7 linked regions of the Homo sapiens genome follow. The protein of the gene in region 7 purifies or fractionates together with the protein of the main gene of each other region. This does not show direct contact. Each region holds a gene or a part of one and is shown on either strand. Other genes may lie near its edges. The genes, in order: YLPM1, AMOTL1, PALS1, PRRC2A, PTGES3, POPDC2 and TNIP2.

Region 1 (4,253 bases), on a different chromosome or scaffold from region 7:
GTGACGCGATCTTGGCTCACTGCAACCTCTGCCTCCAAGGTTCAAGTGATTCTCCGGCCTCAGCCTCCCAAGTAGGTGAGATTACAGGTACCTGCCACCATGCCTGGCTAATTTTTGTATTTTTAGTAGAGACGGGGTTTCACCATGTTGACCAGGCTGGTCTTGGACTCCTGACTTCAAGTGATCCACCCGCCTTGGCCTCCCAAAGTTCTGGGATTACAGGTGTGAGCCATGGTGCCCGGCCTGGGACCACTTTCCACTGGGAAAATTGTTGTCATATTTAGGAATAATAAGATTATTATTCCAGTGAAGACTATGGAATTTATAAACTCCTTTGTATTAGTATCCATAATAGTATAGATAGAGCTATGTGTTTTATCTAAAGATAGAATAGCTGTTCTCAATCCAAAAAGAACTGAAGATACTGTGTTTGACAGTTGGATATTTCTGAGTTGTAGGGATTCTGGACTTTATAATACATTTATAAAATATTTTTGCTTGCTGTTTTATGACTTACATAAAGATGTGTCCTCTTTTATCTTTAGTCTGAGGACCCAGAAGAAGATGCCAGGTTAAAGCAGTTGCAGGCTGCAGCAGCACACTGGCAGCAGCACCAGCAGCATCGAGTCGGTTTCCAGTATCAGGGAATAATGCAGAAGCACACTCAGTTACAGCAGATTCTACAACAGTATCAGCAGATTATACAGCCCCCACCACATATACAGGCAAGTGCTTCCATAGTCCACAATAGGAAGTTGCCCCAAGACATTGAAAGGATTTGTTATTCTTGAAAGATTTAAGTGTAAAAAACAAAAGATACCAACTGTTGACAATTAGTTGTTTCCCAAGGGGTGCCCAAGTAGTTATCTGCCACATTACCTGGGGGACTGGGGAGGGGTTGGTTATAGTAGAGTTTCCTGATCATGTCAACCCAGGCCAGATGTTAGCTTACTATTGCTAAGGGTCTTAAGAGCTGGGGATTTTTACCATATAGCTACAGGTTAACCTGTGTTTTGCCTGTAAACTACAACAGTAACAGATAAGCAAAGAGGCCAAAAACAGCCATCACAAAAAACCTAAGCAAATATACCGTAAAAGATAAAGTGACTTAGATACTTGTTTGTGTTGTATCTTTGAGGGGTAATGTTGTGTCTGTATATCTATAATAACAGATCATTTTTCAAGTTCTTGAAATTATCCATATTAAAAACTTGAAAAATACTTATTGCTAAGATAGGTATTTGCTTTATTGTTTGGTTGGTTTTTCCAACTCTGTAGTAAGTTGTCTAAGCCAAAGGAAGGAAGAAGAATGATCATCACTCAAAGAACTTAACGAACTTATTCTTAGCCTCCCAAAGTCTTTAGTGTTCTAATTTCCTAAAGCGTCAAATGCCCTTGATTCATTAATATTTTAACCTATGATTAATTATCTTATATGAATGGTTTTAAATAGTTTTTATCCCTTTATTTGTAGACCATGTCTGTAGATATGCAGCTGCGGCATTATGAGATGCAGCAGCAACAGTTTCAACATCTTTACCAAGAATGGGAGCGAGAGTTTCAGCTATGGGAGGAACAACTCCATTCCTATCCTCATAAAGATCAGCTTCAGGAGTATGAGAAGCAGTGGAAAACATGGCAGGGACATATGAAAGCCACTCAGAGCTATCTCCAGGAGAAAGTCAATTCATTTCAGAACATGAAGAACCAGTATATGGGGAACATGTCAATGCCACCTCCTTTTGTTCCATATTCTCAGATGCCTCCACCTCTACCTACAATGCCCCCTCCAGTGTTGCCTCCTTCATTGCCACCACCAGTGATGCCCCCTGCCCTCCCTGCTACAGTGCCACCACCTGGCATGCCCCCACCTGTTATGCCACCTTCTCTACCAACCTCTGTTCCCCCACCAGGGATGCCTCCTTCTCTCTCTTCTGCAGGGCCACCACCAGTTCTCCCCCCACCTTCCCTGTCTTCTGCAGGGCCACCACCAGTTCTTCCCCCACCATCTCTCTCTTCAACAGCACCTCCACCTGTCATGCCCCTCCCACCATTGTCTTCAGCTACACCTCCTCCAGGAATACCTCCCCCTGGAGTTCCACAAGGGATACCTCCTCAGTTAACAGCAGCCCCAGTTCCACCAGCCTCCAGTTCACAGAGCTCGCAAGTTCCAGAGAAACCTAGACCAGCACTGCTTCCTACTCCTGTGTCTTTTGGTTCTGCCCCACCGACAACTTACCATCCTCCGTTGCAATCAGCTGGTCCATCAGAACAAGTGAATTCAAAAGCTCCTTTGAGCAAGTCTGCTCTGCCATACAGTTCATTCTCATCTGATCAAGGACTTGGGGAGTCTTCAGCTGCTCCATCTCAGCCAATCACTGCAGTGAAGGACATGCCAGTGAGATCAGGTGGCCTGCTTCCAGATCCTCCTAGAAGTAGTTACTTGGAAAGTCCAAGAGGCCCAAGGTAGGTCTGCTTTTTTTTCTCTTTTTTTTTGGTTTGGCTATTTTATTGACTTAGGCTATTTGGTTCTCGATGGTATAAAAAGCTTCATTTATACAATGTTTATACTCTCTTTGTACTTATATTGTCTGCTTGTTAAGACATCACGTATGTAATCTAGAAAAGGTAACATGCCCCCATTTCTTTGATGTCTCTGCTTTTGTCCTATATGTAGAGATTATAATCCAGAATGAATGTAGTATTGTAGAGTAATGCTAATCATTTTGTATTGACTTATTAGCTTTAAAAATAATATTAAACTTTATCTTTTGTTTGCTTTTTCATTCATTTGACAAATAATTGAATTGGCAATTACTATTTGTTAGATAATTTGTTAGTTGTTAGAGATAAAGATGAATAAGCCAATATTCTACTGGCTTGAGGCAGTGAAATTTAGCATAAGGTAAGTAGGACTTTTATTTTATCCATTCAGCAAATATTTAAGTTCCTGCTCTTGTACTTAGAGCAGTGAATATAGCAGAACACATAAAATTCCTGCCCCCATGGAGCTTACATCCTTTATATTTTCCCCAGTTAAGGAGATACTTCTGTTTATCCTGAACAACATATTTAGAAAGAAAAAAAATTGCTGGTGTGTAAGTTTTTTCTCTTTACCTTCTAAAAACTGTTAAATTCATTTTTTCCAAGTTTGTAAAAATAGATTTTTCTCCCCAAGTTGACCTAAATGATAACTTTTCTATGGAAATTATTATTATTTTTTGAGACAGGGTCTCGGTTTTTCACCCAGGCTAGTGTGCAGTGATAGAATTATGGCTCAGTGCAGCCTCTTCCTCCTGGGTTCAAGCAGTCCTCCCACCTCAGCCTCCCAGGTGGCTGGGACCAGAGGTGCGCACCAACACATCTGGCCAGTTTTTAAAAAATACTTCGTAGAGATGGGGATCTTCCTATGTTGACCAGGCTGGTCTCAAACTCCTGGGCTCAAGCGATCCTCCTGCCTTGGCCTCCCTGCCTGCCGTGGCCTCCCAAAGTGCTGGGATTACAGGTGTGAGCCACCACGCTCAGCCAGAAAAATACTTTAATCAGTTTTTTTCTCAGTTGGGAATTGTAGTAGAAATGGGTACTCCTTATACAAAATTCAAACATTACAGAAAAGTGTAGAAAAAAGTGAAAGTCACCTAATTCCACCATCTGGAGAGAATCATTTTAAAAATATATGTTGCAGAAATGGGATCATACTGAGTAGATTATCTTATAACTTATTTTTCCACCAATCTGCGTATTGCTTAGATTTTCATCTCAGTATCAGTGGATCTACATCATCATTTTTTTCAACCTCATTTTAACATTTGAAAACAAAATATATCTTTTATTCCCCAAGCTTATAATTCTGAAAGCAGTGTGGCACAAAACTCCATCCACAATCAAAGTTAAGAGAAAGGGCAATTAACATGAATTCCTCTGTGTACCAAGAAGCCTTGCTAGAGACTTTACACACATTATTATCTCATGGAAGTCTTCTCAACAACCTGTGAAGTAGGCAGATTATTCTCCATTTACTCTTAACAAAATGGCACTGAGAGGACTGCGTAACTTGCTCAGTCAGGATTATTTAGCAGAGTGAGTAGAACCCCAGAATAGGTACAGTTGAGTCTAGAGGGTCCCCAAAGCAAAAGTACTATTTAAGCTCTGTTTACTGCCATGATTCAAGCCTATACTGTCAGTGCTTATTTGGCATGTGTATCATCTTGATTTGAATTCGTTCTTAATCTCCTGGAATGAGCATTGCCTTT
Region 2 (4,253 bases), on a different chromosome or scaffold from region 7:
GTCAAATGCTTCAGAAAAGTTAGGTGTATAATATGAGGGCTGGAAAATTCTCATTGGATTTGCTTACTGGTCAGAGCAGTGGGGAGGTTAGTGGATGGAGCATTTGGGAAGGGGAGACAGCAAGTGTAGGGTACTTACCAAAGACAACTAGATGAGAAGGAAAAGTGAGATACAGGGTGGTAGTTAGAGGTATATGGGAGGGCCAAGAAAAGGTGGTTTCTTTTGGTTTGATTTTGGTTTTCTCTTGTATTTTTTTTTAAATGGGAAAGACTTGGGTATATTTATGTGATGAAGAGAAAGGACCGGTGGGGAGATTAGAGAAAAGGGAGGGGTTGAAGGATGGAACAATGTTTAAGAGGAAGCAGAGGAGAGGGAGTGCAGAATAGTAGACTCGCTTTGAATTGGAGAAGAAAATTCCATGAGACATTGCCAGGTAAATGGAGGTGATGATGCATTTGAAATCTTATTTTTAAATGTTGCTGTAGTTAGAATGTTAATTATGTACCACATAGTCACAGACATATATCTCCTGTGGAGCTGCCTGATATCTTTTTTCCTATGTTTATCTTTTAGTTGAAGATCCTCTTTGTAACTTCCACTCCCCAAACTTCCTGAGGATCTCAGAGGTGGAAATGAGAGGTTCCGAGGATGCGGCAGCTGGAACAGTATTGCAGCGGCTGATCCAGGAACAACTGCGGTATGGCACCCCAACCGAGAACATGAACTTGCTGGCCATTCAGCACCAGGCCACAGGGAGTGCAGGACCAGCCCATCCTACAAACAACTTTTCTTCCACGGAAAACCTCACTCAAGAAGACCCACAAATGGTCTACCAGTCAGCACGCCAAGAACCGCAGGGTCAAGAACACCAGGTGGACAATACGGTGATGGAGAAACAGGTCCGGTCCACGCAGCCTCAGCAGAACAACGAGGAACTGCCCACTTACGAGGAGGCCAAAGCACAGTCGCAGTTCTTCAGGGGGCAGCAGCAGCAGCAACAGCAGCAGGGGGCGGTGGGCCATGGTTACTACATGGCAGGGGGCACCAGTCAGAAGTCCCGAACTGAGGGGAGGCCCACTGTGAACCGTGCCAACAGTGGACAGGCGCATAAGGACGAGGCGCTGAAGGAACTGAAGCAGGGCCACGTCCGCTCGCTCAGCGAGAGAATCATGCAGCTGTCCCTGGAGAGGAATGGGGCCAAGCAACACCTTCCCGGCTCGGGGAATGGAAAGGGCTTCAAAGTAGGAGGGGGGCCCTCCCCTGCCCAGCCTGCAGGTAAAGTGCTGGACCCTCGGGGTCCTCCACCTGAGTACCCCTTCAAGACCAAGCAAATGATGTCCCCAGTCAGCAAGACCCAGGAGCACGGACTTTTTTATGGTGACCAGCACCCCGGGATGCTCCACGAGATGGTCAAGCCCTACCCTGCTCCTCAGCCTGTGAGAACAGATGTGGCCGTCCTGCGGTACCAGCCACCCCCTGAGTATGGGGTAACGAGGTGATTATCAACTGCAGACGTTTCGTGCGGCTTTTCAAAATTCAATAGTCATGTTATTAGCATTTATTATTTTCAGAGCAGATTAGGTTTTTGTCATCAGGCTTTTTTCCTTATGCATGATATTTAATAAACCACTTTGTGGCCAGAATATATAGGGTGAAATAGAGTAGAGGGCAACTGAGGGATTTTCTCCAAACATAGCAGCAGGCAGTTGGGGATTTATGAGTTTAGGGGAGGGACCTCACTTGTTAGCTGTCCTTGGGAGCTCTGCCTAGTGGCCTGGCAAAGTAGCAATTTTCCAATGGCTTTGTGGAGACCGTCCAAACTCCTGGAACATATTATTACCAGAGGGTTTTATAGTCTTTTTTCATTGTAGATTTTAAAGGAAAATGTAGTCTGAATGCTAGAATGGAGGAGTTAAAGGGACTGTAGAAATCACATAGTCCCATCCCTCACTCAACAGATGAGAAACTAAAGCCTGGAGAGATTAATGAATTTCATAGACACAACTCTGAGGCAGCTGGGGGCTACACTCAAGTATCCTGACTGCCAAAATCTATTCACTCCCTTGCCCTAATTCTTCCTACAGCCTTCACTTGTATTCTTCCAGTTGATTGATGGATTCAGCAGCACCTACTGAGTGTATGCTGTACTCTGAAGCCCTGTTCCTGGTTCAGAGATGGGGTCCCTGCCCTTCAGGACCCTATAGCATTGTCTTGGAGGAAACCAGCATCTGAACAGATCATTGCCATTCAATGTGCTGTTCTAGGAGAGAAATGGGCCGAGGATGCTAGGGTAACAGGTAGGATAGTATAACTCACAACTGGAGGGGCTGGAGAGAGCTTCCCAGAGGAGGTGACATTTGAGTTGGAACTTGAAGGATAAATCAGAGTTGTAGGGTAGAGATGAAGTAGCAGTATGTGCTGTGTGAGGGAGTGCCGTGTCTTCAGACAAAGAGGTCATGAGGATTTTTGTCTGGAATGAGTGGCAATAATGCAGAGCACTGGTGGGCAAGGGTGTGGTAAGAAGTGACAGGAGATATGTTTGGACAGGGAAGTTGGGACCCGTTTGGTTGAGGTATGTTTGGACAGGGAAGTTGATGATGACGGTCTCTGGGTGTCGTATTAAGGAGTTTAGAATGTATCCATAAGCAATCGGGAAAAGCGGTGTTCTTAGGTAGGGATGGTAAGTGGATGTCTAACAGCTGATTTTGGTGGCAGTGCATGAATTAGAGGAAAGGGAGCCCCACGCCACAAGGAGCTCCAGGGATGCTTTCAGTAGTCCAGATCAGAATTGGTGAGGGTGGCCAAAGCTTGGGCAGGGAGAATAGAGGAGCATTATGTGCTAAGAGAGGTAGGGAAATAGAACTGACAGGGTTTAGGGATTGGTTAGATACAGAAATTCTGGAATAGGGATGATGGAAATAAGGGAATTACGAATCAAACTCTCAGGAGAGAAATTGGGTCTGAAGATCACACTTTGGGAGTCAGAAATGTTTAGATGTTGCTGACATTGAAGGAGGGGCAGGGAACATGAACAGAAAAGACATGTGGCCACTGCCTATTATTGGATGTGTCATTTTCATGAAGGGCTTTATTATCTGTTTCTAAATTGAACAAGCCAGGGTTTTCCCAAGCGACCTCAGTGGCTATGTGCAGGACATACCTTGGCTGTACATCTTCTGAAAAAGGAGAGGCTGGAGGTTGGCAGAGGGAGAGTGGCCTGATCTGCCACTGGCTTCCCAGCACTGACACATTTCCCCACATTAGACTGAGAATGCCAGCTCAGAAGCAGCATAACCAACTGTGAGATCTTGGCCAGGCAGGAGAACGCATTCTCCCTAAGTGGGCATAACCGGACTCCTCCCAGGAATCCAAGATGGGATCCAGGAGGCTCTTCTTCCCCCTTTATAGCTCCTTGATCAAATCCCTGGTATTTGCATCACAGTGATTTACCACAGTTGTTTAAAATAAGCCATGATGTTATTCCACCATCATACCAGAGTTTGGCTTATTATATTTCACCCTTTTCCCTGATAACTTAACTCAGCCTCTAGAGCTTGATAGAGGGGAAGCTATCCTGAAATGAAATCCCCTTCCTCTTCTTTGCTTTACTATTTGTAAAGTAATATGTACATACCGTGCAATGCATACAGTGGATCACTTTGCCTTTTGTCATTTGGTAATAGGTGTGATGTGAGGTGGGAGAAATGGTCAGGGGAGGAGGGGAACACTTTTGGAGGTCATTTTTCTCAAAGTTATGACGTTAGAAAGAAGAAGAAATGTGTGAGGGATTTGAGCTGACTGCCAGGCTTGGCAGCTGGTTAATATGACGCATCAAATGTCTCAGGAGACGTAACAGACAGGCCATTGAGGCTGGGTCCCAGAGCCACAAGGCCCCTTTGTGAACAGGGCCATGGCTAGCCAGCATGGCTCCAGTGGTGCAGCCCTTGGCTGACTGGGTAAACAATATTGCATCCACACCAGCCCTGCTTCAGACACATTTAACGTGGCCTGAACTCGAAGGATTGGACCTGAAACTCAGCAGTGTGTCATGTTCAACTTGCCTGTGACCCAGAAGACAAGTAGGGCCCCTTTCATTTCACTGACACATTATCTTGTGCTTAAAGGGTTATCTGTTTGTCATTGATCGTGATGGTTTAGGAAGCTGCAGGCCATTGTGTACATACGTACAACCACATAGACTCTTGGACTAGAAAGAGACGCCTCTGATGGAGATCATGGAGTCCATCTCCCTG
Region 3 (4,253 bases), on a different chromosome or scaffold from region 7:
TTAACAGATTAAAGAAAAAAGTTCACACAATCATCTCAATACATGCAGAAAAGGCATATGATAAAATTCAACATCTATTCATGATTTAAAAAACAAACCCTCAGTAACCTAGGAACAGAAGAAAACCTCCTTAACCTCCTTAACAGAATGCACAAAATGACCTACAGCTAATATCATTTTTTAAAAGTGAAAGACTGAATACTTTTCCTTTAAGAAAGTGAGCAAGAAGCCAGGCACTGTGACTCATGCCTGTAATCCCAGCACTTTGGGAGGCTGAGGTGGGCAGATCGCTTGAGCCCAGGAATTTGAGACCAGCCTGGGCAACATGGTGAAGCCCTGTCTCTACTAAAAATACAAAAAATTAGCTGGGCATAGTGGCACTTGCAGTAGGTCCCAGCTACTCAAGAGGCTGAGATGGGAGAATCAACTGAGCCCAGAAAGTCGAGGCTGCCGTGAGCAGTGCTGCGCCACTACACTTTAGCCTGGGGATAGAGTGAGACCCTATCTTAAAAAAAAAAAGTGAACAAGATAAAGATGCTACTTCTCATCTCTCCTATTCGACATCTCAGTGGAAGTCCTAACCAAGACAATACAGCAAGTTAAGGAAAAGAAATAAAAGGCATACAGACTAGAAGGAAAGAAAAGTTTTGAGCACGACTGTCTACTTAGAAAATTCCAAAAAAAATTACTAAAATAAAAAAGCTCCTAGAGCTAATAAGGGAGTTTAGCAGAAAGTCAGGATACAAAGTCAATATACAAAAATTAATTTCTATATACCATCAGTGATCAACTGGAATCTGATTTTTTTAGATTACCATTTACAATAGGACCAAAAAATTAAAATAATTAGGTATAGACTTAATAAAGTATTTGCAAGATCTGCATATTGAAAACTACAATACTCACATAAATGGAAAGAAATAGCATGTTCATAGATGAGAAGACTCAAATTATTAAGATGTCAATTATCTTCAGGTTGATCTCTAAATTAGACACAATCTCAATCAAAATCCCAACAGAATGTATAAATTATCAAGATGATTCTAAATATCATACAGAAAGCAAAGGAACTAAAAATAGTCATAACAATTTTGAAAAAGAATACAGTGGAAGAGTCACATTACCTAATGTGAAGACTTATTTTAAAGCTATAGTAGGCTGGGTGCAGTGGCTCACGCCTGTAATCCCAGCACTTTGGGAAGCCGGGGCAGGCAGATCACGAGGTCAGGAGATCAAGACCATCCTGGCCAACACGGTGAAACCCCGCCTCTACTAAAAATACAAAAATTAGCTGGGCGTGGTGGTGCGCGCTTATAATCCCAGCTACTTGGGAGGCTGAGGCAGGAGAATCACTTGAACCCAGGAGGCGGGAAGTTGCAGTGAGCTGATATCGTGCCACTGCACTCCAGCCTGGCGAGAGAGCAAGACTCCATCTCAAAAAAAAAAAAAAAAAAAACCTATAGTAGGCCAGGCTCAGTGGCTAACACCTGTAATCCTAGCACTTTTGGAGGTTGAGGTGGAAGGATCCCTTGTGCTCAGCTGCTCAAGACCAGCTTGGGCAATATAGGGAGATCTTGTCTCTACAAAAAATTTTAAAAATCGGCCTGGCATGGTGGCATGTACCTATAGTACCAGCCACTGGGGAAAGTGGGAGGATGGCTTGAGTCCTGGAGGTTGAGGCTGCAGTGAGCCATATTCACACCACTGTACTCCAGCCTGGGTGACAGAGTGAGACCCTGTCTCAAAAAATTTTTAAATAATACAGTCTGGGCAACATAGCCAAGACCTTATCTCTACAAATAAATTTAAAAATCAGCCAAGTGCGGTGGCACGCCTGTGGTCCCAGCTACTTGGGAGGATTGCTTGAACCTGGGAGGCCAAGGCTGCAGTGAGCAGAGATCACACCACTGCACTCCAGCCTGGACAGAGAGAGACCCTGTCTCTAAATAAAAAATAAAAATATAAATACAATAAAATAAAAATAAAAAATAAAAAGGATAGACAAAATAGATCAATTGAAGAGTCCATAAACAAACCCAAACAAATGCAGTCAAATAGCTTTTGACAAAGAGACAAGAGGAATACAATGGGAAAAAGATCATGTTTTAAACAAATGGTCATGGAACTGGACAAACAAATAAGTGAAACAACTTGTACTTCTCTCATTTTATACAAAAATAAACTCAAAATGGAACATAGATCTAAAAATAAAATTACAATATAAAACTTGGAAAAAAAAATTGGAGAAAAATCTCTCTGACCGTGGATTGAGCAAAGAGTTCTTAGATACAATATTCAAATTTTAAAAATTAATAATTTGGACTTTCTCAAAATATAAAATTCTATACTTCAAAAGTAATGAAGTATAGAAGTTATGAGGATGAAAAGGCAAGCCAGAGTGGAAGAAAACCTTCGTAAATCACTTATCTGACAAAGATAAAGGACTATATAAAACTTTTGGGGCAGCGGCTCATGCGTGTTATCCCACCACTTTGGGAGGCTGAGGCAGGAGAATCACTTGAGCCCAGGAGTTCTGAGACCAGCCTGGGAAACATAGTGAGACCCCATCCCTAAAGAAAAAAGGAAAAAATAATAAGATAATAATAAATTCAGCAATAAGACAATAATCCAATTTAAAAATGGGCAAAAGTTTCAGACACTTTACCAAAGATAAACAGATGGCAAATAAGCACATGAAAAGATGCTCAACATCCTCAGTCATGGGGGAAATGCAAAGAAAAATCCCAACGAGATACTACTAAAATGGCTAAATCTAAAGACTGACCATACCAAGTGCTGACAGGAATGTAAAGCAACTGACCTCTCATATATTGCTGGTGGAAATGCAAAGTGGTTCAGCCACTTCAAACCCAGCCTGACAATGTATTAGTTTCCTATGCCAATGTAACAAATTGCCACAAATTTAGTGGCTTAAAACAACAGAAATTATTTTACAGTCCTATAGGTTAGAAATCTGGCATATGTCTCCCTTGGCTAAAATTACTGGCAGGGCTGCTTTCTTTTCTGGAGCCTCTTCAAGATTCTAGACACCACTCATATTCCTTAGTTTGTGGCCTGCTCTCCTCCATCTTCAAAGCCAGCAACTTTGCACTTCTCTGACCAATTGTTACATCTTTTTTTCCTGACTCTACTCTTCTGCCTCTCTCTTTCCTTTTTTAAAGATTCTGTGATACACTGGGACCACCTGAATAATCCACAATAATCTCCCTAAAGTCATCTGATTAGCAACCTAAATAAGCCTTTGCCACTTAAGCAAACATATTCACAGGTTCCAGGGATTAGGATATCTTTGAAGACCTTTATTCTGTCTACCACAGATAGGTCTTTTTTTAATTTTAAGATAAAATTAGGCTATACCTACCATATTCCATCTACTTAAGAGAAACAAAAACTTAGGTTTACACAAAAACCTATTTGCAAAGATTTACAGCCACTTTATTCAGTCACAAAAAACCTGAAAACAACTCAAATGTCCTTCAACTGGTGAATGGATAGGTGATGGAACTGTTCTTTACCTTGATTGTGGTAGTTGCACAGCTCTCTGAGTTGGAATTGTACAATGAAAAGTTAACTTCATTTCATGTAAATTAGAGTTAAATATTTTTTAAAGAAAAGAAGCAATTATATCATTTCTCATCCACCAGATTAGCAAAAATTTTAAAATCTTACGATGCCCAGTGTGGGCAAGAATGTGAAGCCACTGTCACTCATACTGTTTGCAGGAATGTAAATGATTACAGCATTAAAAAGGGTAATTTGGCTGTAGCTAGTAATGTTGAAAACACATATCAACCTATTATCAGCAATTCCACTTATAGGTAGGTATACATACATTCTAGGAAAGCGTCCACACATGCGCTCAAGGAGACATACACAAAGATATTCATTAAACATTGTTTGAAATATTAAAAAACTGAAAATTCTTCAGTAGGGGAATGAATTGCAGTTAGTAGTTATTAAAAAAGAAAACGGAAAAAATCCATGACAGAAAGAATCCTGCCAGTTAAGTGATTTGGAAAAGGCAACTTATTGGTTTATCTAACAATGAGACATCCTGAGAAGAGCACTGAATTTAGAATATGGAGACTTAGAATATGGAGAACAGCATTTTAGCATTCATGTAGTTCCAAGTCTGCCCCTAACTAGCAGTCAGACTACGGATTACTTAACTCCTGCAAGCCTCACTTTCTTTTTCATGGAAAATGAAGAGGTTAGACTATATAACCACTAAG
Region 4 (4,253 bases), on a different chromosome or scaffold from region 7:
AAAGGGGGTGTGGGCTCTGGGTGAACACCAGTTATCCTCCTACAAAGGCGTGTCTGTGGTTCCCTGTCTTTGGACACGTAAGAATTGGAGGAAAATAAATGTGGATTTGGGAAACTTTGAGGCCAGCTTGCTTCTTGCAGGCTCATGATCAACCAATCTCACATAAAAGTATTGAATGTTACATATCTCAGCCTTCTTGATAGGGATTTCATAGATTTTTTTTTTTTTTTTTTTTTTTTTGAGACCAAGTTTAGCTCCTGTTGCCCAGGCTGGAGTGCAATGGTGTGATCTTGACTTACCACAACCTCCACCTCCTGGGTTTAAGCGATTATCCTGCCTCAGCCTCCTGAGTAGCTGGGATTACAGGCATGCGCCACCACACCCGGCTAATTTTGTGTTTTTAGTAGAGACAGGGTTTCTCCATTTTGGTCAAGCTGGTCTTGAACTCCTGACCTCAGGTGATCCGCCTGCCTCGGCCTGCCAAAGTGCTGGGATTGCAAAGTGTGAGCCACCACAATCAGCGCGATTTCAGAGATTATTAAGGGCAGGGGAAGGAATCCCTTCTAAGAGAAGTTTGGAGGAAGTAGGTAATAAAATATTCAACATGTATAAATGTGTCCCAGGATAGGAGGCCATCAGATCTCCCACATGAGGCATTTTCGACCCTCTCTCCGTCTTGTTCTCCAGTTGCCCCTCGCCATGGCCTGCAGAGTCTCGGGAAAGTTGCCATTGCCCGGCGTATGCCACCTCCAGCCAACCTTCCAAGCCTGAAAGCCGAGAACAAAGGCAATGACCCCAATGTCTCACTAGTGCCAAAAGACGGAACAGGATGGGCAAGCAAACAGGAGCAGTCCGACCCCAAGAGGTAGACAGAGGCTTGGGGGACCTAGAGTGATGGGTATTTTAACTTGAACTTCAGGGAGCATTGGGGCTTGGTTTAGTCCAGCCACGTCTGAGCCAGAGACGAAGAGGTCCCTTTCTTACCTATTGCAGGTTCCTTGTTAAATGACTAAGGAATGGTACTAAACTTTAGCTTTTTGTCTTGGAGAGAGAGCATGAAAAAATAGACAACAGCCTACAAAGGATGACAAAATTAATTTGTCCTTATATTTGTAAATGGTAGCAATGGGCATGATTTCAGTCCTGAGTCTCCACCAGTTGGAGAAGTCAGGGAGGCATCTCAGGTGTGAATAACCTTCCCATTCTGTCCCCTCAGTTCCGATGCCTCAACCGCTCAGCCGCCGGAATCGCAGCCACTGCCGGCTTCACAGACGCCTGCCTCCAACCAGCCGAAACGACCCCCAGCAGCCCCCGAGGTACCTGGAGAACTGGAGGGGTGGGGAGGAAGAATGGTTCATAGCTGCCCCACCCACATCATTTATCATCTTTCTGAACACTTCCCCAGAACACTCCTTTGGTTCCAAGCGGGGTAAAGTCCTGGGCACAAGCCAGCGTCACCCATGGAGCACATGGAGATGGTGAGTGCAGCACTTAATTGGGGAGCTGTGTCTGGGCACCATGGGATGCATGAACCCTGCACTGTATTTTCAGCCAAGTGACCTTGGTCCTCTTTGGCTAAATCAAGGACCACCCATATTCAGTTTCATGGAGGCACATGAGCAAGTTTAAGTCTCAGTCTTATATGATGGAGTGTAGTGGTGCCAGAACTGACCTCCTTGGGGAATAAGCAGTTATTCTGTAGGGGGGTGAGTTTGAAGGCGGGAAACCTGATGGTCTGGTACCTGTCAGAGCCTTCCACTTTTTTTTTTTTTGAGACGGAGTCTCATTCTGTCACCCAGGCTGGAGTGCAGTGGCGCAATCTCGGCTCACTGCAACCTCTGCCTCCTGGGTTCAAGCGATTTTCCTGCCTCAGCCTCCAGAGTAGCGGGACTACAGGCACACGCCAACACACCCAGCTAATTTTTTGTGTGTTTTTAGTAGAGATGGGGTTTCACATGTTGGCCAGGATGGTCTCGATCTCTTGACCTCGTGATCCGCCCGCCTCAGCCTCCCAGAGTGCTGGGATTACAGGCGTGAGCCACCGCGCCCAGCCAGAGTCTTCCACTTTTATAGCATGTCCTCAGGAAATGTCTTCTGTCTCCTGTTCTGCATCCCCATCCTAATAGGTGGAAGGGCATCAAGCCTACTGTCACGATTCTCTCGAGAGGAATTTCCGACCCTGCAGGCGGCTGGCGACCAGGACAAGGCTGCCAAGGAAAGGGAGTCTGCCGAACAGTCGTCTGGGCCCGGACCAAGCCTCCGCCCCCAAAGTGAGTGGCTGCCTTTTGGCCAAGACATTACCTATTGCATCTCAGAGCTAGGTGCTGGCTTATTCACCTTCCTCCCCATCACTTTCAGCTGTGTTCACTTGTCCTCCAATCATTGATACCTCTCTCTACCTTTTCCAAAATACAGATTCTACAACTTGGAGGGACGGAGGTGGGCGTGGCCCTGATGAGCTGGAGGGCCCGGACTCCAAACTTCATCATGGTCATGATCCCCGGGGTGGGCTACAGCCTTCAGGCCCACCCCAGTTCCCTCCCTACCGCGGAATGATGCCGCCTTTCGTGAGTCTTGGTGTCTTGTCTTGGAACGATTACACTGGAAGCTGGAGAGCTAGGAATCAGGACTTAGTCTTTGACCTATGAGATAGAAGGGAGGGTGGGAGGATGATTGATAGCAGGCTTAAGGAGCTAGAAGGGTATATGACTGTCCCTCTGAGCAGCTACTGTTGGACCCTTTTACAGATGTATCCCCCATATCTCCCGTTCCCTCCGCCCTATGGACCCCAGGGGCCTTACCGATACCCCACTCCTGATGGGCCCAGGTGAGCAATCCAGGTCTGGGTTTGTGGCTGGGGGCAGGGGAAGCTTATTGGGGGAGGAGATGGTTTTCTAGCCAGGAGGCTCAGTCTAGGATCAGTCTCGCATGTGGTTATACAACATGCCATATTTCATTTTCTTTTTTGTGTACAGCCGTTTTCCCCGTGTGGCGGGCCCCCGAGGCTCAGGGCCACCAATGCGCTTAGTAGAGCCTGTGGGTCGTCCCTCTATTCTCAAAGAGGATAATCTCAAAGAGTTTGATCAGTTGGATCAGGAGAATGATGATGGTTGGGCAGGTAAGTGGATATTAAGGGTCAAGAATTTGGATCTTGAAAGGCAAAACCTAATGAGGAAAAAAAAATACAGGGTTATGTGGGTGAAAGGCAGACATTGAAGTGTAGGAAGACCAGGCCCAATGGCTCACATCTGTAATCCCAGTGCTTTGGGAGTGTTAGGTGAGAGGATCGCTTGAAGCCAGGAGTTCAAGACCAGCCTGGGCAACACAGCAAGACCCCCCACCTCTACAAAAAAAAAAAAATTTTTTAGTTGGGTGTGGACTGTGCATCTGTGGTCCCAGCTACTCTGGAGGTTGTGGTGGGAGGATCAGTTGAGCCCAGGAGTTGGAGGTCACAGTGAGCTATGATCGTGCCACTGAACTCCATCCTGGGCAACAGAGCGAGACTTTTAAAAGGAAAAAAAAAAAAGAGTAGGGGAGGATGGATGGGGAATACCAAGTCCTTGCAAAGTGGTGAGAGGAGTAAGAATGACAAGACTTCATTGGTGGATCTAGACTTCGGAGGGAAGGATATTGGCATTGGTAGTCCATCTTGTTACATAGTTCCAGACTACCTCCCAAGATTGGAGGGCAGAATGCTTGGGTTACTAATACTCATATTTCCCCTCAGGGGCCCATGAAGAGGTTGACTACACTGAAAAGCTCAAGTTCAGCGATGAGGAAGATGGGCGAGACTCTGATGAGGAGGGTGCTGAGGGCCAGTGAGTTAGGGCCATCAGGGGAGAAGAGGAGGGGGTCTTGGTTTGTATTTTGGTAATATACTCTTAGAGGAGTATATTAGTTGCAGCTGATTTTAATTTCACTGTTGATCTGCTCACAGCAGGGATTCCCAATCAGCTTCTGGTGAGGAACGGCCCCCTGAAGCAGATGGCAAAAAGGGCAACTCCCCCAACAGCGAACCGCCCACTCCTAAGACGGCCTGGGCAGAAACCTCTCGGCCTCCAGAGACAGAGCCGGGACCTCCTGCCCCAAAGCCTCCCCTACCCCCACCTCACCGGGGCCCCGCCGGGAACTGGGGCCCCCCTGGGGACTACCCAGTGAGTGTCTCCAATAAGGGATTGAGAGGGTCAGCTGTGGGAAATTGGTGTCAGCTGAGTAATTGAAGCGGTTGTGATATAGAGGAAGGGGGGTGCTAA
Region 5 (4,253 bases), on a different chromosome or scaffold from region 7:
CAATCCTAGCTATTTGGAGAGGTGAGGTGGGTGGGAGGATCGCTTAAGCCCAGGTGGAGGCTACAGTGAGCCATGTTCACACCAGTGCACTCTGGCATGAGTGGCATGAGACTACCTAAAAAAAAAGACTAGGCTGGTGTCGTGGCTCATGCCTGTAGTCCCAGCACTTTGGGAGGCTGAGGTGGGGAGACTGCTTGAGCCCAGAAGTTCAAGACCAAGCTGGGCAACACTGTGATACCCCTTTCTACAAAAAATACAAAAATTAGCCAGGTGTTGTGGCATGCCCCTACAGTCCCAGCTACTTGGGGGACTGAGGAGGGAGGATCACTTGGAGCCTGGGAAACTGAGGCTGCAGTGAGCCAAGATCGTGCCACTGCACTCCAGCCTGGGTGACAAAGAGAGACCCTGTTTTGGGGGAAAAAAAACACTGAAAATTGTTAAACATACCTTTTGAAAACAAATTTACTAGTAAGAACTATTTTCAGTTGATTATTTTTTCACCAAGCTTTGTCCCCTCCCATGTGATAGCTGAGTAATTTATGCAAAGTCTGTCTCTTAAGTACAAAAGATTCTACACCAGTTAATAACTGATATTCTGATCACACTTCGTATTAAAACTGAGTAGACAAAAAACATGAACATGAGGCTTTATACTTAGCTGTGAAACAAAAACACAGCCATATTCCTTACATCAAATAAGTACATCTTTTATTACCTAAAATAAAAATATCAAACTTTTCAAAAAAGGAAAATGAAACCTACCTTTGCCCTTTCTTTTGTTAACCTTGGCCATGACTGGCCAGATTCTCCTTTTCGTAAACAACATAAAATTGATCTGTCCGTTCTTTTATGCTTGGAATCCTAAAAACAAAAGGACCATCATACCATTTATCTTTCCAGCATCACTACATGATAGAAAATAGCTTGTCATTTCTCACCTTTCTCATTTCTTTACCTAAATTTTCTCTGGACTCTGAAACATGCCCTTGACTACTAAAAACTTCAAACTATCCAACTGCCCCAACCCCCTTTAAGTTTCATTTAAAAAAAAATTTTTTTTTCCCTTCTATTTCCTACTGAAATAATCTGCACAACAATAAAGTTTAAAGTTTAACCTGGTACCATTTTTTTCTTTCCTGCACACGATAAACAGAATAAAACCTTAAAAACTTTAACTAAAAATGATATAACCACAGAATGGTTTAAAGATTCTATTCTTAGATAAGGGAAGCCTTGGCCGGGCGCAGTGGCTCATGCCTGTAATCCCAGCACTTTGGGAGGCCGAGGCAGGTGGAACACCTGAGGTCAGGAGTTTGAGACCAGCCTGACCAACATGGTCTTTACTAAAAACACAAAAATTAGCCAGGCATGGTGGCATGTGCCTGTAATCCCAGCTGCTCCAGAGGCTGAGGCAGGAGAATCCCTGGAACCTACGAGGCAGAGGTTGCAGTGAGCCGGGATCGCTCCATTGTACTGCAGCAGTCTCAAAGAACAAAACCAAACAAACAAAAAAACAAAACAAATAAAAAAGATGAGACGAGCCTCAAGGATACTACTCTAAGCCCAAACAGTGATAGCAAAAACAAAAAGTATGCAGAAACCAATTTTGGAGGAAATATTCTACAAAATGTAAATATACATAGTTTGCCTCACTGTTAAGAAAAACAGAACTAATGCTCATTGCTAAAAAGAATACTTGGTATGTCTGTTTCCTCACAACTAAAATTTGGATTAAAGCATAAAGACTACTTACATTTGGATCAATACAGTGAAAAAGATCAATTTCATTTAAATGCTTAAAATTATCACTTCCTCCGAGACAACTGTATAAAATAATAAAGAAAGAATTAAGCCTCTTCAAAGAGACAAAGATTAATAATAACTTCAATGAAAAGACAAGCCAGTCAAAGTTATTCAGTTGTGTGAATGACTATTTTACATCATTGGATAAAAAGCTTAACTTACCTGAATGTAAGTTTGGATTTTTCAAAATTTACATTAACATCCTTACTGTCTTCAACACAAAATTCAATGAAGACATAGTCCCTTCGATCGTACCACTTTGCAGAAGCAGGCTGCCTACAAAAGGATAAAGTAGGGAAAGTCAAGCTGGAATTCATTAACTAAACATTCACATACTAACCTTCGACACCATTATAGCATTATTTCAGGGCAGTTTGTTACAATTTTAAACAAAAACTACATTTTTACCCTAACAGCTACATTCCAAGTTAAAACCTATGGGTCTAACAAGATTTAGTTTCAGAATGATTCCAATTTCATAATAGGAAAGATTTAAAAACCAAACAATGCTTAGTAGAGTTAGCCGTTTATCTAGTCCTATCAAAAATTATGTTACTTGGCTGGGTGCAGTGGCTCACACCTGTAATCCCAGCACTTTGGGAGGCCAAGGCAGGTGGGTCACTTGAGGCCAGGAGAGCTAGAGACCAGCCTGGCCAGCACAGCGAAACCCCGACTCTACTACAAATACAAATACGGAAAAAAAAAAAAAAAAAAAAAAAAAAAGCAGGGTACGGTGGCTCACGCCTGTAATCCCAGCACTTTGGGAGGCTGAGGTGGGTGGATCACCTAAGCTCAGGAGTTCGAGACCAGCCTGACCAACATGGTGAAACCCCATCTCTACTAAAATACAAAAATTAGCCAGGCACAGTGGCAGGCGCCTGTAATCTCAGCTACTTGGGAGGCTGAGGCAGGAGCATCGCTTGAACCTGGGAGGCGGAGGTTGCAATGAGCCGAGATTGCGCCATTGCACTCCAGCCTGGCAACAGAGCGAGACTGTCTCAAAAAAAAAAAAAAAAAAAAAAAATTAGCTGGGCATGGTGATGCAGGCCTGTAGTCCCAGATACTTGAGGGATGGGACTGAGGCACAAGAATCACTTGAACCCGGGAGGTGGAGGCTGCGGTGAGCTGAGATCATGCCACTGCAATCCAGCCTGGGCAACAGAGACTCTGTCTCAAAACAAACAACAACAACAAAAAACACTGGTACATCAGAGCTTCACTTTTTACATTAAGTTCACTGAAACCAGGAGAATCAATCTCCTTTCCTCAAATTCAGCAATCTAGAATTTTATCAGTTTCCTCAAAATTAATACATTGAAGTCCTAACCCCCAGTACATCTTAAGAATGGGATTGTATTTGGAGAAAGTGTCTTTAAATGACAAGTAAATATGAGGTCTTAGGATAGACCCTAATCCAATGACTGTTGTCCTCCTATATAAAGAGATTAGCACAGAGGGAAGAAAGAAGATAGCTATCTGCAAACCAAGGAAAGGCCTCAGAAGAAACTAATCCTGCTGACACCTTCGCCTTGGATTTTCAGCCTCGTGGAAATGTGAAGAAATAAATTTCTGCTGTTTAAGCCACCCAGTGTGTGATACTTTCTTATGAAAGCCTTAGCAGGCCAGGCGCGGTGGCTCACGCCTGTAATCCCAGCACTTTGGGAGGCGAGGCAGGTGGATCACCTGAGGTCGAGAATTCGAGACCAGCCTGACCAACACGGAGAAACTCGTCTCTGCTAAAATTACAAAAAATTCAGGCGGGCACAGTGGCTCACGCCCATAATCCCAGCACTTTGGGAGGCCGAGGCAGGAGGATCACAATGTCAGGAGATTGAGACCATCCTGGCTAACACGATGAAACCCTGTCTCTACTAAAAATACAAAAAATTAGCCAGGCATGGTGGTAGGCGCCTGTAGTCCCAGCTACTCGGGAGGCTGAGACAGGAGAATGGCATGAACCCAGGAGGCGGAGCTTGCAGTGAGCTGAGATCAGGCCACCGCACCCCAGCCTGGGCAACAGAGCAAGACTCCATCTCAAAAAAAAAAAAAAAAAAAAAAAAAAAAATTCGCCAGGCGTGGTGGTGCATGCCTGTAATCTCAGCTACTCAGGAGGCTGAGTCAGGAGAATCGCTTGAACCTGGGAAGTGGAGGTTACGGTGAGCCGAGATCAGGCCATTGCACTCCAGCCTGGGCAACAAGAGTGAAACTCGGTCTCAAAAAAAAAAAAAAAAAAAAAAAGTGCTGGTTCACACCTGTAATCCCAGCACTTTGGGAGGCAGAGGCAGGCGGATCACGAGGTCAGGAGTTCGAGACCAGCCTGGCCAATATAGTAAAACCCCGTCTCTACTAAAATTGCAAAAATTAGCTGGGCGTGGTGGCACGTACCTGTAGTCCCAGCTATTTGGGAGACTGAGCCAGGCCAATCAGTTGAACCCAGGAGGTAGAGGTTG
Region 6 (4,253 bases), on a different chromosome or scaffold from region 7:
CTCTTCCCTTGCCAGGGTTCGTGTGAGCCAGGATGGGCAGTTTCTGCACTACATCTTTCCATACCAGTTCATGGACTCTCCTGAGTGGGAATCACTACAGCCTTCTGAGGAGGGGGTGTTCCAGGTAACAGGGAGCCTGGTGGCAGCACCGCCTCACCCCATCCCACTGTAGCCCAGCAATATCCGTGCCTCCATGTTTCCCCTCTTACATCTGTCCTTCGCACCCCTGCCAGTGTGAAGCTACAGGCGGGGGCACTCTTCCTCTGAAAAGAGTTCCTGGGCTCCTAGCCATAGGTGAGGTAGGGTAGGAAGATGCTGGCCCCTGGGTAGACCATGTTACTTGTATGCTTAAACTCTTCTGGAAGACCCTAGTGCCACAACATAAAAACCCACACTTGTTATAGGGTAACTTAAACCTTTTAGTGCTCTCTAGTCGCATTTCCAGCTCTCCCTCCTTCATATTTTTTGCTCATACTAGCCATGCTGAACCACTAGTACTTCCCTAAACACACCACATTGTTTTGCAGCTCTATGCCTTGGCCCCTACTCTCCCCTCTGAAATGCATTTCCCCTTCTAGATGAGACCACGGAACCTCACTTCCACTGTGAAGCCTGCTTCCACCCCACAGCCTCACCAGCTTCCACCCCACAGCCTAGCACTCCTGTGTGCCTGTTCTAGTCCTTTTACTTATGCTAACTGGTGCACATCTTGCTGTCTGTTCTAATAATCTGGTCTCCTTTCTGTCTTCTGCACAGTGAACTCTGAAGTACAAATCTAGGCTTTTCCCTCTCTGTTCCCAGACTCTAAAGGAAAGTACCTGGAGCACAGCAGCTGTTCAGTAAAGAATTGCTTGCCGGGCGCGGTGGCTCACGCCTGTAATCCCAGCACTTTGGGAGGCTGAGGTGGGTGGATCCTGAGGTCAGGAGATCGAGACCATCCTGGCTAACACGATGAAATCCCGTCTCTACTAAAAATACAAAAAATTAGCCGGGCATGGTGGCGGGCACCTGTAGTCCCAACTACTTGGGAGGCTGAGGCAGGAGAATGGCGTGAACCCGGGAGGCGGAGCTTGCAGTGAGCCGAGATTGCGCCACTGCACTCCAGCCTGGGCGACAGAGTGAGACTCCGTCTCAAAAAAAAAAAAAAAAGAATTGCTGAACTGGTTTGCCACTGGGCAGCTGGTGTCCCAGAGGACTCCATGGGGCATTCACATACATGCTCCAATGCAGGTTCCTGGCTGCCTGGCCCCTACTCTTCTTATCTCTGCCAATCCCTCAGGCTTTGGTCACTTTCTTTGTAGCTCTCACTTATTGAATGGCTAGCATGTGGCAGGCACTACGTATCATATTGCCTCATTGATTCTCATAACAACTCTATGGGTTGAATATGATTATTACTCCATTTAACAACTGAGGAAACTAAGGCCCAAAAACATCAAGTAATTTGCCCAGGGTCTTCAGCTAGAAAGTGACAAAGCCAAGTTGCCTGGATCTACCATTTCTGTTCTTTATTAAAATGGGAAGGTCACCAGAAGAGTAGAGTTTACACACACACATACACACACACACATGCACACGCATGCACACACGCGCACACACACTCACTCACCCTTTTAAGGACTCCCCTGCCTGGATAGTTTGCTGGACCTGGAAACACTGGATTCCATGTGTCTCCTACTACTTTTATCAGGGAGTCCCTCAAGCCAACATATGAGCCAACCCCGGAACAGACACACACCGGGCAGTGCTACCTGGCAGGGCCTGCTTCTGCCCCCACCCTGACACTTGGCTCTGTGATGATGGAGCCTGAGAGGCAGTCCTGATCCCACTGCCAGGGTCACCAGCCACAGATCCACTTCCATCATGTTCCTACCCTGACCTCCGTCCACACACCCTCCCTAACTAGTCCAGAAACCTTCTTCAGGAACTCTCTCAGGCACATGAGAACCTCCAGGAGGGCTCAGTCAGGACCTGAGCCAGCTGGACCAGGCCTCTTTCTGACACTGACACGGAGGAACAGGTGGTGGGTAAGCCGGGTGTCCTCCCCTAAGTTACGCTCAAGAGGAAGGGCTGTAACCTCACATGGCCTCTCAGCCTGGAATGTAGGTATGGTCATGTTCCTCCCATTTATATTTTTAGCGTGTACCTCCTTTGGGAGTAATGAGAGCCACACATTTGCTATTGGCTGTGTAAAGTCCCATTTCCTCTTTGCAAATGTCAAGTGTTATCTTAAGTTAGAGTTCATCCTGTCCTTGCCTTTTGCAATTACATAGTCTTTGTTGACTGAGAGCAATCCACAGTGACAGCCTAAATTATAATTCACATTGTACCTAATATAAATCAATCAGCATTCCAGCACACCTCTCGACAATTCAATTAAGTCAGAATTCATTGTGTGTTCGGCACTGTGACACTCATTAGTCACCAAGAACACAGCACAGGAGGGATCACACAGAAATCATCACTGTTTTTCTAATTTGCATCCTATCTTACTGGACCTAAGTCCTATTTACATAGGTTATCTCATTTAATTCATTCAACCAACATCTGAGATGAGTATTAAAAAAAAAGCTAAATACTTGTCAAAACGTTACAACAGATATGTCTATATATATGGGAGAACCAATCAAGAAGCAGATTTCAGGAGGACCTTTGGGGAAGGATTTTATACAGGACATGAGAAAGCAACATTAGAGGCTGGGCGCGGTGGCTCACACCTATAACCCCAGCACTTTGGGAGGCCGAGGCAGTTGGATTATGAGGTCAGGAGTTTGAGACCAGCCTGGCCAACATGGTGAAACCCCATCTCTATTAGAAAATACAAAAATTAGCCAGGGTGGTGGCAGGTGCCTATAATCCCAGCTACTCGGGAGGCTGAGGAAGGATAATTGCTTGAACCCGGGAGGTGGACATTGCAGTGAGCTGAGATCACACCGCTGTACTCCAGCCTGGGTGACAGAGCAAGACTTCGTCTCAGGGGGGCGGTGGGGTGGGGGAAGAAAGTGACATTAGGTTGTTTTGCAATATACAAGATTGGCTGTCTTCCCTTGATTCATTTATTCACTTCAATAATATTTATTGAAAACTTAGTATATACCAGGCACTGTTAAAAGGATTTGAAATATATCAGTGAACAGAACAGATGAAGGTCCCTCCCCTCATGCAATTTACATTCTAATGGGGGAGACAAAAAGCCATAGGCATAATGAATAAGTAAATTATATAATTTGTTAGAGGATAATCACTGCTAGTTTAAAAAAAAAAACCTAGAGTAGTGCAAGGGAGAAATGGTGGCAATTTTAAATAGGGTGGTCATGGAAATCCTTGTTAAGCAGATAACATTTGAGCAAAAACCTGAGAGAGATGACAGGTGAGGTCTGTGAATATCTGGGAAAAGCATATCAGACAGAGGAAAGAGCCAGTGCAAAGGCCCTGAGGTGGGGCCAGTGTGTTTGATGCACAGAAAGGAGGACAGTGGACCTGGAATGGAGAGAGGAAGGGGAGGGAATAGCAGGAGAGAAAGTTGGAGAGGTGACGAGGTAGCAAGATCATGTAGGGCCATAGCATATATTGTCTAGATACAGCCAAAAGGATTTTCTAAAGGGTTGGATATAGTATGTGAGAGAAAGAGAAGATCAAGGAAGACTCTAAGGCTTTTGGCCTGAGCAACTGGACAGGTGGTGCTGCTGTCAACTGAGACAAAGAAAGCTGCAGGTAGAGCTGCTTTCGGGGGACTAGGAAGTTCAGTGTTTGATGTTAGGTTTGCATCATCTGTGGACATTTGAATGGAGATGCTGCATAGGCAACTGGATATTTAAGTCTGAAATTCAGGAATGAGATCTGGGCCTGAGACATAAATTTGGGAGTTGGTTGTATGCAGATGATATTTAAAGCCATTGGATAGGATGAGCTCACCAAGTGAGTGAGTGTGGATGGAAGAGGGAATGGTTCAAGAGCGGAGCCCTGGGATACTTTAGTGGTGAGGAGTTGGAGAGGAAAGGAGGAAGCAGCAAAGGAGCTTGAAAAGGAACAATCATGAGATTGGGCAAGGAGTGTATGGCATCCTGGGAACCAAGTGAAGAAGATATATCAAAGAGGAAGGGGAAATTGATGGATGCCATGAAAACTGACCATCAGACTCAGCAGCTTAGAGGTCATTGGTGACCTTAACAGGAACAGTCTTTGTGGACTGCTAGGGACAAAGTCTTATTGGTTTAAGAGAGTGAGAAGAGAGGAATTGGAGACAGTTAAGT
Region 7 (3,347 bases):
ACCAAGTGACAGTGAGGGCCAAAGAAGGGTTCGCTGGACCTCCAGGATAGGCTGGATCTGGGCTGTAGCTCTCTGTGGGGTCTAGTGGGAGAGAGAAGGACCGTGGGAGTTTCAGCATCAGGAGAAACCAGGGGGCTCCTAGGCAGAAAAGTAGGGGAGCAGTGGCCCAAGGCATCTGTGTGCCAGGCACCTTCCATCTTGCTGGTGCTTGTGGTGGTCTGTGTGTGGCAGGCAGGGGAATGGAGGCACTCCGTGCACATCTCACCTAGGCTGAGACCCCATCTCACTCGCACTGCCGGGCACAGGGCCTCTCGCTCGGGTCCTTTCTAGGCAGTTCTCTGAGGCAGCACCAAGGTTCATGCAGAAACACACGCGCTGGGATGTTCTGTGGCAGACAGTACATCCCGCACCCATCAGCAGCTTCACCGAGGCGCCCACTGGGGAGAAGGTTGGTCTGAGAACTGCCCACCTCAGCTGGGTGGATTCCAGGCGGGGAACCTCAGAGAGGACACAGCTGCATTCAGAAACCAGAGGAAAAGTGCCGTCTGGGCGGAGGCAGGGTGTTCTGGTCTGATTTTGAGTCACTGTGTCATTTCCCTCTGGGGATTTGAAAGGAGCCACACACAGTGTTGAGCCTGAGGCGGGGGTGGGGCCAGTGGCAGGGTAGGCCCTCATCACAGTCTCTAAATAAGTGTCACTTCTCAGCCCTGAACTCAGCTGAGTCACCCGGGGCTTCCCGGTGTAGGCTGTGTTAGGACGTGCACTTCCTTTGTCATTTGAGGGGAATTCTCAAAAATTATGTCACTGAGATACAGTCAGAATTGTAGGGTACACACGAGTTTCAGGAGACTTTTCATTCAGCTCTGTAGTTGTTAGTGGGGGTTGGTTTGGGTTGTGGCTTCGGTGACTCCTGACCCTGCGTGGGGCAGAGGTTAGATTCCTGTGTCCAGAATCACCTGGTTGAACCCGATTGTCTGCAGACAGGACAGTGTCATGGGCTCCAAAGGAGGTAAGCAGGGTGCATGGCCAGGCCCACCCTGGGCAGCTGGGGGCCCCCTCACTGGAGATCCTCTGGTTTACAATGGGATTCAGCTTCCTGCCTTCCCTGCTGTCTGTGATAATGGCAAATCTCTGGCAATGAGAAGACTTTATCATGTCTGGTGTGCCAATCCCTGCAGACATTATGGCTTTAGAATATTTACATTCCAAATATTTAAAAGACAAACAGCTCAAACTGGTAGGTGGGACGGGATAAGGACAGTGTGAAAGGTGGTGTGGCCTGAAGACCTCCCATCCGGGCTCTGGCCTGGGCCAGGTGGGGTGGGCCTGGGCAGGGAGAAGGTGGTCCCTTGTCCCTGCTTTGCTTCTCTACCAAATGAATGATCACTACCCGCTGCACTGGGGGACGCAGTGATAATCTGTGGCCTCAGCCTCTGGGTCTAGCTTTCTCCCCTCTTGCTGTATGTGACAGAGTGTCTTCTCTCTGTCCCTTCCTCATGCAGTCGGAACACACAGATGGGCACACCTCTGTCCAGAGTGTTATTGAGAAGTTGCAGGAAGAAAATCGACTGTTAAAACAGAAGGTGACTCACGTGAGTGTCTTTCACATTTCGTTTGAGAAGAACACATGGCTTACAAACTGTAAGTGAGGGTTCTTTCCTTGGCTGATGCCCAGAGTCGCCCCCCGCCCTCTGGCCACTAGGACTTGATACACACAGTCCCTAGAGACTGGACTTTTTTGCTTAAAACGACGTACGGGACATGTCCTGTCCATCTCCATCCCCCTAAAATTAATCCACAAGTCAGTAAAGGAGATGCAAGAGTTAGCAGCAGGAGGTCCATTTTCTAAGACAGCAAAGCTGCACCGAGTCCACCTCCGTTCATGCTGCTTGCGTACGGGTGTCATCGTGCTGCCTCAGGATTCTCTAGCGGGCCTAGTGTCTGCTCTCTACAGAACAGGGAGGGGCAGCTTCCATTTAAGAGGAAACTCTCACTCAGCGAATCACTGCTAATACATAATTCACACTGGGTGCTGGCTTGAGCAGCTTTGTCAGCTGCCTTCACCGTGAGCTTTCCGGCTCCACCTCTTCAGGTTGAAGACCTCAATGCCAAGTGGCAGCGCTACAACGCCAGCAGGGACGAATACGTGAGGGGGCTCCATGCGCAGCTCAGGGGGCTGCAGATCCCCCACGAGCCCGAGCTGATGAGGAAGGAGATCTCCCGGCTCAACAGACAGTTGGAAGAGAAAATAAATGACTGTGCCGAAGTGAAGCAGGAGCTGGCGGCCTCCAGGACGGCCCGGGATGCTGCGTTGGAGCGGGTGCAGATGCTGGAACAGCAGGTGTCTGTCCCTCGGGCTCCGGACGGCACTGACCAGATGTCTGCTGGCCGGTGGTGGCCGAAATCATGGGACAGGCTGGGCTGAAGGCTTGGTGGCACTGAGTGGGCAGTGGTCACTGTGGGGGTGGGAGAAGCCTGGTGGGGCGCTTCCTCCTTCCTTGAGCAGAAATGTGTGTCTCGCCTCTCTTCAGATTCTCGCTTACAAGGATGACTTCATGTCAGAAAGGGCCGATCGGGAACGGGCTCAAAGTAGGATTCAAGAACTGGAGGAAAAGGTCGCCTCTTTGCTGCACCAGGTGTCCTGGAGACAGGTAGAGTATGAGGGCGTTTTTCTTCCTGCTTAGGTTTAGTGTTTTTGTTTCTCTTCTCATGAGATTAGAGCCTTTCTGTGTCTGCCAAGGCCCTGATTTGCTGGTGATGAGGGTTGTGGCGAGCCCCTCCCTGCTGTGGGGAGAGCCACCTGGCCTGGTACCTGGGCGTGGTCATGGAAAGCCTCCCTGTTATACTGTTTAGTTATGGAGGAGGCTGGCATGGCGGCCTGTCTTAGCAGAGGTGGCTGTCCTCAGGGCCCGTCCGTCACTGTCATGCAGTCAGAGAGCATATCTCGGGCCTCAAAGTGTGAGCTCCCTACGTGTCCTGACCTGTCTGTGAGACGGGAACCCCGCTTACCTTGTCATGTAGATGTGATGGCCCTGGGTGTCCAGTAACATCCCCAGCTCAGCCTGGCACGTGGAGCTGGGCCTTGCAGGGCAGGGGCCCCTCACCCCACCCCTGGGCTCAGTGCTTTTCCTACCATGGGGTGCCTTGAGGGAGGCCTGGCATGAATGGGAACCGATGAAGTTCCTCAGTGTGTGACCCATGGCCTCTTCCTTCTCCTCACTGACTTGTGCTCTGCAAAAATCCAGGAGAAGTTTATGTAGCTCCTCATCAAGTACCTAACACACTTTTGGCCCTGGGAATAGCCTGGGCCCCACTCAAAGAGCTTCCTCTCCTGGCACAGACTGAAC

Evidence for each region.
Region 1: the proteins of TNIP2 (region 7) and YLPM1 purify together in Homo sapiens (affinity purification with mass spectrometry; 2 studies listed by BioGRID, with this or other methods). This does not show direct contact.
Region 2: the proteins of TNIP2 (region 7) and AMOTL1 purify together in Homo sapiens (affinity purification with mass spectrometry, with the first as the bait; 2 studies listed by BioGRID). This does not show direct contact.
Region 3: the proteins of TNIP2 (region 7) and PALS1 purify together in Homo sapiens (affinity purification with mass spectrometry, with the first as the bait; 2 studies listed by BioGRID). This does not show direct contact.
Region 4: the proteins of TNIP2 (region 7) and PRRC2A purify together in Homo sapiens (affinity purification with mass spectrometry, with the first as the bait; 2 studies listed by BioGRID). This does not show direct contact.
Region 5: the proteins of TNIP2 (region 7) and PTGES3 purify together in Homo sapiens (affinity purification with mass spectrometry, with the first as the bait; one large-scale study listed by BioGRID). This does not show direct contact.
Region 6: the proteins of TNIP2 (region 7) and POPDC2 purify together in Homo sapiens (co-immunoprecipitation; one large-scale study listed by IntAct). This does not show direct contact.

The regions. Positions count from the first base shown.
Region 1 is NC_000014.9:74,779,860-74,784,112, forward strand, and holds part of YLPM1 (YLP motif-containing protein 1), read left to right. Parts: intron 1-545; coding exon 546-725; intron 726-1,474; coding exon 1,475-2,466; intron 2,467-4,253. UniProt on the Homo sapiens protein: Plays a role in the reduction of telomerase activity during differentiation of embryonic stem cells by binding to the core promoter of TERT and controlling its down-regulation.
Region 2 is NC_000011.10:94,798,817-94,803,069, forward strand, and holds part of AMOTL1 (angiomotin-like protein 1), read left to right. Parts: intron 1-573; coding exon 574-1,495; intron 1,496-1,522; exon of another isoform or gene 1,523-4,253. UniProt on the Homo sapiens protein: Inhibits the Wnt/beta-catenin signaling pathway, probably by recruiting CTNNB1 to recycling endosomes and hence preventing its translocation to the nucleus.
Region 3 is NC_000014.9:67,243,853-67,248,105, reverse strand, and holds part of PALS1 (protein PALS1), read right to left. Parts: intron 1-4,253. UniProt on the Homo sapiens protein: Plays a role in tight junction biogenesis and in the establishment of cell polarity in epithelial cells.
Region 4 is NC_000006.12:31,623,045-31,627,297, forward strand, and holds part of PRRC2A (protein PRRC2A), read left to right. Parts: intron 1-34; exon of another isoform or gene 35-166; intron 167-687; coding exon 688-865; intron 866-1,216; coding exon 1,217-1,316; intron 1,317-1,405; coding exon 1,406-1,478; intron 1,479-2,126; coding exon 2,127-2,270; intron 2,271-2,415; coding exon 2,416-2,567; intron 2,568-2,747; coding exon 2,748-2,827; intron 2,828-2,975; coding exon 2,976-3,118; intron 3,119-3,727; coding exon 3,728-3,818; intron 3,819-3,937; coding exon 3,938-4,154; intron 4,155-4,253. UniProt on the Homo sapiens protein: May play a role in the regulation of pre-mRNA splicing.
Region 5 is NC_000012.12:56,670,987-56,675,239, forward strand, and holds part of PTGES3 (prostaglandin E synthase 3), read right to left. Parts: intron 2,080-4,253; coding exon 1,966-2,079; intron 1,824-1,965; coding exon 1,754-1,823; intron 862-1,753; coding exon 763-861; intron 1-762. UniProt on the Homo sapiens protein: Cytosolic prostaglandin synthase that catalyzes the oxidoreduction of prostaglandin endoperoxide H2 (PGH2) to prostaglandin E2 (PGE2).
Region 6 is NC_000003.12:119,650,376-119,654,628, reverse strand, and holds part of POPDC2 (popeye domain-containing protein 2), read left to right. Parts: intron 1-15; coding exon 16-124; intron 125-4,253. UniProt on the Homo sapiens protein: Important for the maintenance of cardiac function.
Region 7 is NC_000004.12:2,743,691-2,747,037, reverse strand, and holds part of TNIP2 (TNFAIP3-interacting protein 2), read left to right. Parts: intron 1-1,502; coding exon 1,503-1,592; intron 1,593-2,092; coding exon 2,093-2,341; intron 2,342-2,531; coding exon 2,532-2,651; intron 2,652-3,347. UniProt on the Homo sapiens protein: Inhibits NF-kappa-B activation by blocking the interaction of RIPK1 with its downstream effector NEMO/IKBKG.